2 separate regions of the Homo sapiens genome follow, and region 1 is linked to region 2. Evidence: fine-mapped expression QTL. A gene starts in region 2. The other region holds a variant in brackets. All regions are shown on one strand. Distances are between the middles of the regions.

Region 1 (4,242 bases), 28 kb before region 2:
GAAAGCCTCCCTAAGGGGACCACCACACACGACCCTGGTCTTGCAACATGGCCCACCTGCCATCTGCCATGGAGGGGCTCACGGAGGGCACCCCTGGAGGCCGGGCAGGGAACACTGCCCCAACATACTCCTCTACCCACTGCTGCCACCCTCAGGACCCGCAAATCCAGCAGGTTACCTCTGCCCCTCCCCACGGCCGACCAGGAGGAATCAGGGGTGATGGCCTGGCCTCGGCTCACCTGCCTGGGCTGACACACGCACACACCCCTCACGGAGGGCAGGCCTGTGGGGGACCTGCAAAAACTCGTAAAGACGACAGCCGAGGCCTCCACAAAAAGGACCAGGTTCTCCAGAAAAGTGAGCAGCTAAAACTGTTTCTAAGAAACTCAACTGCATCCAGAACAAAGATTAAGATGATTTATAAAAATGCTAAAACACCCAGCACGCAACATGGTAAAATTCGCAATGCCTCAGGCATCAACCCGAGAGTACCAGGCCCACAGGAAGGCAGCATAATAGGACCCCAAACAAGGAGGAAAAGCAGCCTCCTGAAACCGACCCTGATATCAGAACCAGCAGACATGGGCACTCAGCAGTTCTTACAACTGAATCCCAATCTGCAAAAGTTTAGTAGAGACATGGAAGACGTAAAGGGGACCCCAAGCAAGCCTCTAGAGAATTATAACATGTTGGCTGGGCTTGGTGGCTCACGCGTGTCATCGCAGCACTTTGGGAGGCTGAGGCAGGAGGATCGCTTGAGCCCAGGAGTTCAAGACCAGCCTGGACCACATAGTGAGACCCCCATCTCATAAAAAATAAAAAAAATTGAATTACAACACGAGGTGACAAAAGCACTGGATGAGATTAACGGTAGGCTGGGTGGTGAGGGAAAGGACCACGTCGGGCGGTAGGCTGGGTGGTGAGGGAAAGGACCACGTCGGGCGGTAGGCTGGGTGGTGAGGGAAAGGACCACGTCGGGCGGTAGGCTGGGTGGTGAGGGAAAGGACGTCGGGCGGTAGGCTGGGTGGTGAGGGAAAGGACCACGTCGGGCGGTAGGCTGGGTGGTGAGGGAAAGGACCACGTCGGGCGGTAGGTTGGGTGGTGAGGGAAAGGACCACGTCGGGCGGTAGGTTGGGTGGTGAGGGAAAGGACCACGTCGGGCGGTAGGTTGGGTGGTGAGAGAAATGACCACGTCGGGCTCAGGATGGATGGGATTAATGGCAGGTTGGGCACAGCAAGAGAAATGACCAGGCCAGGCACGGGGCTCACACCTGTCATCCCAGCACTTTGGGAGGCTGAGGCAGGAGGATCGCTTGAGCCTAGGAATTTGAGACCAGCCTCGACAACATGGCAAAACCCTGTCTCTACAAAAAAAATACAAAAATTAGCGGGGCATGGTGGCATGCACCTGTGGTCCCAGCTATTTGCGAGGCTGAGGTGGGAGGATGGCTTCAGCCCAGGAGGTTGAGGCTGCAGTGAGCTATGATCACACCAGTGCACTGCAGCCTGGACGACAGGGTGAGACCCTGTCTCAAAAAAAAAAAAAAAAAAGAAAACAGAGAAAAAAGAATCCCAGCCCGGTGTGGTGGCTCACCCCTGTAATCCCAGCACTTTGGGAGGCCAAGGTGGGCGGATCATGAGGTCAGGAGATCGAGACCATCCTGGCTAATGCGGTGAAATCCCATCTCTACTAAAGATACAAAAATTAGCAGGGCGCGGTGGCAGACGCCTGTAGTCCCAGCTACTTGGGAGGCTGAGGCAGGAGAATGGCGTGAACCCGGGAGGCAGAGCTTGCAGTGAGCCAAGATTGCGCCACTGCACTCCAGCCTGGGCGACAGAGCGAGACTCCGTCTCAACAAAAAAAGAATTCCAAAAGGTAAAAGGTGTATTCGTGAGCTGTGGGACAAATTCAATGGATCTAGTGTTTGTGGTCTC[C/T]AAACGAGAAGACAGAAGAGAAGAAACAGAAAAAATATTTGAAGAATTTGGCCTCAAATTTTCCAAGTTTGCTAAGAGTACGAATGCAGACTCAAGAGGCTCCATGAACACTGTGCAAAAGGAAAATGAAGACACGTCAATAAAATTGTTCAAAACCAGCCATAAATACAAGATATTCCTACGAGCAGGGAGGACAGCAACACAGGCAGGAGAAAGAGGTGGCGGTGAAACGCTGTCCGAATGAGAGGGCGGCCACATGCTTAAGGTGCCAGTGAAAAAACCGACAGCCAGAATTCTACAGCCAGGAAAGATGTCCTCCAGAAATAAAGTAAAGTAATGCCAACAAGAAACCACACTCGCAGAGCATACCAAGAACACACAAAGCAGGAAATTACTCCCGGGCAGAGGAGAGGAGGAGGAGCATTCAACCCAGGAGGCCCCGGCCCGGCCTGTATGCTGTGGGGCAAGGCTGACGGGTGGGGGAAGCCTCAGTCCCAGCCTCACGCAGATGTGGGGACAGCCTCACGCAGATGTGTGGCCGTGTTATGGGTGGTGACCACAGTGGGGGCTGCGGTGGGGTGGGCACCAAGCAGGACCGGCTCCTGGCCCAGCCCCTATCTCTGACTCTGTGGGGCAGAAGCCCCAGGGGACCGAGACCCTCCCCATCACTCTGTCTCCTTACACCCACACCCACCCGCGCCCAGTGACACCTTCAGCACGGCAGGGAGAGCCCTTGGCTCACCTGGCCCCGACAACAGGCTCACGGGCATCCTTGGAGGTCGCGTAGTCCATACCATAGAAGTTGAGCCCCAGGAGGATTTTGCTTCGCCACTTGGACTTCGGGTCCAGGACCTGGACGCAGGCTCGAACCCAGGACAGGGGTGCATTAGGGCCAGGCCTGCAGGGCAAGGGGTGAGCGAGTTTCAGCAACAGGGAGGGCCCCGCACCTGAGCCATCATTGGGGCCCTCCACTGAGGGGTGCATCCTCCCCATGCTGCGGCTGACACCTCTAGAGAGTTGTAAAGAACAGAAGTCACCCATCAGAAAGGGCTGTCAGCAGAGCGGGCCCATGAGGGACGTCACGTCCAGGGCCAGGATCACCCATCAGAAAGGGCTGTCAGCAGAGTGGCCCCATGAGGCATGTCCAGGGCCAGGATCACCCATCAGAAAGGGCTGTCAGCAGAGCGGGCCCATGAGGGACAACACACCCAGGGCCAGGCACTCATGTGCGGCCCCCACCCCACAGCCACAGGCAGGAGTCCGCATGACACAGTGGGAAGGAGGTCAGCAGACACAAGGCCTTCTGGGCATCCTTCCTGAGGTCTCCCTGCCTGCGCCTGTGTCACACGGCCCTCCCACAACAGTGTGGCTCAGGCGAAAGAGGACAGGGCGGCATCGGGCAGCAGCAGGACTATGCCTGTACCTCTGGCCGTGACCCAGCTCCACCAGAGGCAGGGCCCCACCCACGTGACCACCACAGGGCATGGGGCAGGTGCAGTCCCACTGGCTTCCCTCAGGTGGGTGTCCAGACTCAGCAGGTGACCTTGTGCACAGAACCACAGGCAAGAGGGCATCAGCTGTGCCCAGGAGCCCCCCAGGTCCACACTCACTGCTGCACTGTGGAGTTTGCTGTGCCCAGGAGCCCCCCAAGCCCACACTCACTGATGCGCTGTAGAGTAGTCGTAGGTCATGAGGCTGAAACCATCCAGCACGGGGGCCAGCTGCTCAAACTCCTTGTGCGTGAACATGCCCAGCTGGTCGGTCCTGTAACAGACAGGTGCAGCCACCTCAGGCTGCTATGCCCTGCCTGAAGCCCCTCCCCAGCTGCGGTTCGAGCAAGCTGCCTGTAGGGGACTTGGGTCACTTTTCCCAAGGGGAAAAGTGTTCTTCTGGGGTGGGGACAGCCTGCAGCTTGGTTGGGGCCACAGAGGCTGGGGGCTGGGAGACACAGGGGGATGTGGTCATCGGGGCCCAGAGGCCTCTCTGAGACCAGGGTACAGCTGAGAATGACAGACCTAATGGCGGGGAGACCTGGGCCAGGGCTGCCCATGGAGGGGCAAGGTCAGTGGAGAGTGGCCAAGAGGATGGGCCACTCCCAAGAGCTGGGGTTGCTGAGATGGAGGTGACTGATCCAGGCTCCCAGGAGCGTCCCCTCCCGGGGTCTGCAGCAAAGCCTCCCTGAAGGCAGAAGCAGCTCCTGGGATGCAGCCCTCAAGCCCACTCAGGGTCGGCCTGGCCCAGCCAGGCTGTCCAAAGCCCTCACTGGACCTCAGCAGGTAGACGGGAAGGACAAGTGCTTGGCTCCCA
Region 2 (4,242 bases):
TCTGTCTTCTGGGTGGAAATCTGGGTCAGGGAGGAAGGAAAGGAATGAAAAACCAAACGGTGGTTCTCCAGGGGACTGGCCCAGGAGTAACTGGAGGGCACACTCAGGTACCCAGTGACCAACCACTATAGGGCTGGGTCTCTGCCCCTACCTGCCGTCCTGCAGATTTGAAACAGGGCCACTGTCCACCCACCTAGTGGCCCCTCTGCCTATGACCTCCCTGCCCCCCAACCTGTGATTTCACACTTCAGGGAAGGAAGAGGAAAGGGTGGAAGAGGAAGACAGTCCTGCCAGCATGTGTCCAGCAGAGGGGACACTAGGAGAACCTAACTGAACACAAGGCCAGGGTACTGCCTCTGTCCACTCGCGCTTAACTTGCCCGCTCTGTGATGGAGTGCTTGGATACAGGCTGCTCACAAATGCTGGGCTGCTTCTTTGACTTGCCATGGAACTTTCCAGACAACTGCCCCAGGGAGATGGTGTGTGTGATGTGTGAGGGGTGCTCACACTGCAACCAGGCCCTTGTCTGGGCTTTGGTACCTCTCCCGCTCCCCACTGCTCACCGGCCGCTCGGCTCTGAGGCCCGTGAGGACACTCTCCATCATGCTCTTCACATAACACAGACTCCCAGGTTCACACACACTGTGTTCCTGCATCAAACCGTTTCTTCCCCAAATGCCAATGACCTTCCCTTGGGCAGAACGGCCCCGCACACAAAGGGAATGTGTTGTGTTATGAAGAGGCACAGGCCCCGACCCTGGTCACCCAAAGGGGTCCCAGAAACCGCTCTGTAACAAGATAAGGTGGAGCGCTACTGCTCCCACTTTCCTGCGCTCCCAGTCCGTAGGTCCAGGACCTCCTCGGTGGTGTTGATGGAAATGATGGGAGTCACAGCAGGGGCTTTCCAATGCTTTTCATGGAGACCAGCAGTAAGAAATGCACTTTACGTCACAGCCCAGCACACGTGTATGTCATGTGTGCACATGTGTTGTGCATGTGTGTACATGTGTAGAGCGACAGCAGCCAATCAGAGCTAACTCTATTCTGCGATGGACGCACTGACAACTCCTGTTCTGTTGTGTTTTGAAGAACTAACTGGTGCATGGCGGCTCTGGCCTGTGATCCTAGCACTTTGGGAGGCCAGGAGTTTTTGACTGGTTTTGGCAACACAGCCAGACCTGGTCTCTACAAAAAATATTTTTCTGCCGGGCAGATCACCCCATCAGGAGTTCAAGACCAGCCTGGCCAACGTGATGAAACCCAGTCTCTAAAAAAGATACAAAAATTAGCTGGGTGCAGTGGTGTGCGCCTGTACTCCCAGCAACTCGGGAGACTGAGGCAGGAAAATCCCTTAAGCCCAGAAGCGGAGGTTGCAGTGAACCGAGATCGCGCCACTGCACTCCAGCCTGGGTGACAGCGTGAGACTCTGTCTCAAAAAAAAAAAAAAATTCTTAGCTGAGTGCGCTGGCGCACACCTGTAGTCCCAAGTAGCTAGGAGGCTAAGAGATTACTAGAGCCCAGGAAGTCGAGGCGGACGGGCGGGCGGGTCACCCTCCAGTTTGGACAGTCAGCAATGGAAGCTTCAAGGGTTGGGGCTGAACCAAGGGTGGGTGGGATCGCGTCTGATGCGCCCACCCTTCACGGGGACCGCGTGCCCCTCACTGGGAGGGCAGCCCGCCTGGAGCCCTACTGCCTCTGCTCCCTCTGGGGGTCCTGGGGACCCGATGGCCACCACTCTGCCACACGAGCCGCGCGCTCACACACTCCTCACCCGCCGGCCACATCCCTTGTCTGCGCACTCAGGCCCCTTCCACCCAGCGCGCCTAGCTCTCAGGCTTGCTCGCCCCAGCGCACGCGCTCCACCTCCCACTCGCGGTCCCCCCGACACGCGCCCCCGTCCACACTCGCCCTCCACCCCCGCTCTCGCTCACCCTCGCTCTCATAGCAACCCTCTCTCACCCTCGTCCTCACACCCTCTCACACGCCCCCTCACACACTTGCTCTCTCTCACGCACCCGCCCGGCGTCGCCCGCGACCCCACGCCCGTCCTCCCGGGGCCGAGCCTCGCTGCCCGGCGCGCCCACTTTGCGGGAGGGAAACTGAGGCCGTGCAAGGAGGAGGAGCAGGGGCCGGCCGCCGCGGGGCTCACCTGCATGTCAGGGAGGCCGGACGGCCACAAACGCACGGCCGGAAAACGCTCCAGCGCGCCGGAAGTCCCGCCCCAGGCGCCCGCGCGCCGCCGCCGCGCACGGCACGCTGGGATGGAGAGGGGCTGGGCCAGGACAGGGGACTGGGCAGGGCTGCCCGAAAGTCGGGGCCGGGGCCGGGGCCGGGGCCGGGGCGGGGCCGCGCCGGGGGCGGACCCCGGGCCCGGCGCGTTCACCTTGAGCGCCCCTGGTGCTCGCGCTGGAGCTGGTTATCAGGTTCCCGGCCCAGGGGTAGCCGGGTTCCCAGCGCCACGGCTCTTAGGCAGGCCTGGCGCCCTTGGCGTGGGGCCGCGCGGGGCCTTGGGCTCCAGGGCCTCTGCCCGGCTCGGCGGTGCCGGGAGAACCGCGCGGTGGGCTCCGCCCCGGCACGCTCCCCCGGGGACCCGGAGTCACCACTCCTGGCGTCCCCCCGACCCCCGCCTGAGTGGACCATCTCCATCCCCAGGCCGATGGCGCCCACTGCGCTGTCTCCAGCGGGGACTGCCCGAAACGCGCGCTCTCTCGGTCCGCACCCCCGCCTTGCACATTGCACGAGCCGGAGCCCCAGGAGGCAAACCAAGTTCCCAACTCAGCCCCTCGCGCTTGGATGAACGAGCGCGTGGCCAGCACTTTTGAGTCACCGCGCATTCTACGCGGCACAGGCTGTCCGACCCCCACCCCCAGCCCTAGCCGTTCCCAGCGCAGTTTCCTACAGAAAACCGCACGGCCGGGCCCCACCCTGCCCCGCTCAGCCGTTCCCGGGGCGCGCGTGGGCTCCAAGACACCCTGCACAGCTGCTTCTCCATTTCTGCTGCTTGGGAGCTTTCTCCTTAAACTAAGCTTTGTCTTTCTTTCTAGTCACGTTTCCTTCTTTCCCTTCCCGGTATTTTCTGCCAGCTGACGCCCACGCCTTTCCTAGAAGGGGCTGGGGGCTGCATGCGGTGCGAGGCACGTCCCCCACCAGCTGTGGGCTCTTACTCAGCTTAGCACTCGCTCTCAGCAAACGGCCTGGATGGTGGCCTGAAGCCTGACCTTTGGGGGTGAAGACCTCAAGTCGGCAGAGCTCTGGAGAGGGTCCCAGTAAGCTATGGCAGGTGTCCTCAGGGACATATGCGCAGTCCTCCCAATGCTAAGGAGGCCATGGCAACATCCAACTTCTCTTAGGAAAGGCACTTAGCCATTTTAGGATCTCATTGAGGTCAGAGGTCTTTGGCGCTAAAGAATTGCAGAATCGATCGGGCAGCCGCCGCCTTTAATCCTAGCACTTTGGGAGGCCAAGGCGGGTAGATCACTTGAGGTCAGGCGTTCGACACCAGCCTGGCCAACATGGTGGAACCCTGTCTCTACTAAAAATACAGAAATTAGGCGTGGTGGCGCATGCCTGTAATCCCAGCTCCTGGGGAGGCTGGGGCAGGAGAATTACTTGAACCTGGGAGGCTGAAGTTGCAGTGAGCAGAGATCACACTGCACTCCAGCCTGGGTGATAAAGTAAGACTCGGTCTCAAAAAAACAAAAAAAAGAATTGCAGAATCTACTTAGGGTTCACTCTGGGCCAGAACTACAGACCTCAAGAGCAGATGGGGCCCGCAGATGGGAGGATAGGAAGCCCAGAGCCAGGCCCCTCTGCAGAGCTCCCAACGGCCGGGTTCCTGGGGGAGTCTTGTCAGTTGCCAGCACAAAGCGGTCCGCTTCCCAATCTGCATAGTTTGTGCCAATGGGCCCCGTGTACCTGCATTGAAAACTGACTTCTTGGCTGGGCGCGGTGGCTCACGCTTGTAATCCCAGCACTTTGGGAGGCTGAGGCGGGCGGATCACAAGGTCAGGAGATCGAGACCATCCTGATTAACACGGTGAAACCCCGTCTCTACTAAAAATACGAAAAATTAGCCGGGCGTAGTGGCGGGCGCCCGTAGTCCCAGCTACTTGGGAGGCTGAGACAGGAGAATGGCGTGAACCCAGGAGGCGGAGCTTGCAGTGAGCCAAGCCATTGCACTCCAGCCTGGGCGACAGAGTGAGACTCTGCCTCAAAAAAAAAAAAAAGAAAAAGAAAAAGAAA

Which allele goes with the higher level. Alleles are on the strand shown, and positions count from the first base shown. SD is a standard deviation of normalised expression in the study named.
In carriers of allele T in region 1, the expression in skeletal muscle of the gene that starts at base 2,185 in region 2 tends to be higher than with C alone (small effect, 0.30 SD a copy in GTEx).

Evidence for each region. PIP is the estimated chance that this variant, and not a neighbour inherited with it, causes the effect.
Region 1: its variant is fine-mapped to the expression of CHID1 in skeletal muscle (GTEx, PIP 0.92).

What each region holds. Positions count from the first base shown.
Region 1 is chr11:880,471-884,712 of GRCh38, forward strand. CHID1 (chitinase domain containing 1) reads right to left here. Exons shown (of 13, transcript NM_023947.4): 9 at 3,598-3,699; 10 at 2,678-2,833. It also overlaps the pseudogene LOC124902604. Among named protein-coding and RNA genes, the nearest start is that of CHID1, 28 kb to the right of the region's middle. The variant C/T (reference allele first, on the strand shown) is at 1,936.
Region 2 is chr11:908,626-912,867 of GRCh38, forward strand. CHID1 (chitinase domain containing 1) reads right to left here and starts at 2,185. Exons shown (of 13, transcript NM_023947.4): 1 at 2,150-2,185. RefSeq lists a silencer at 1,868-2,707.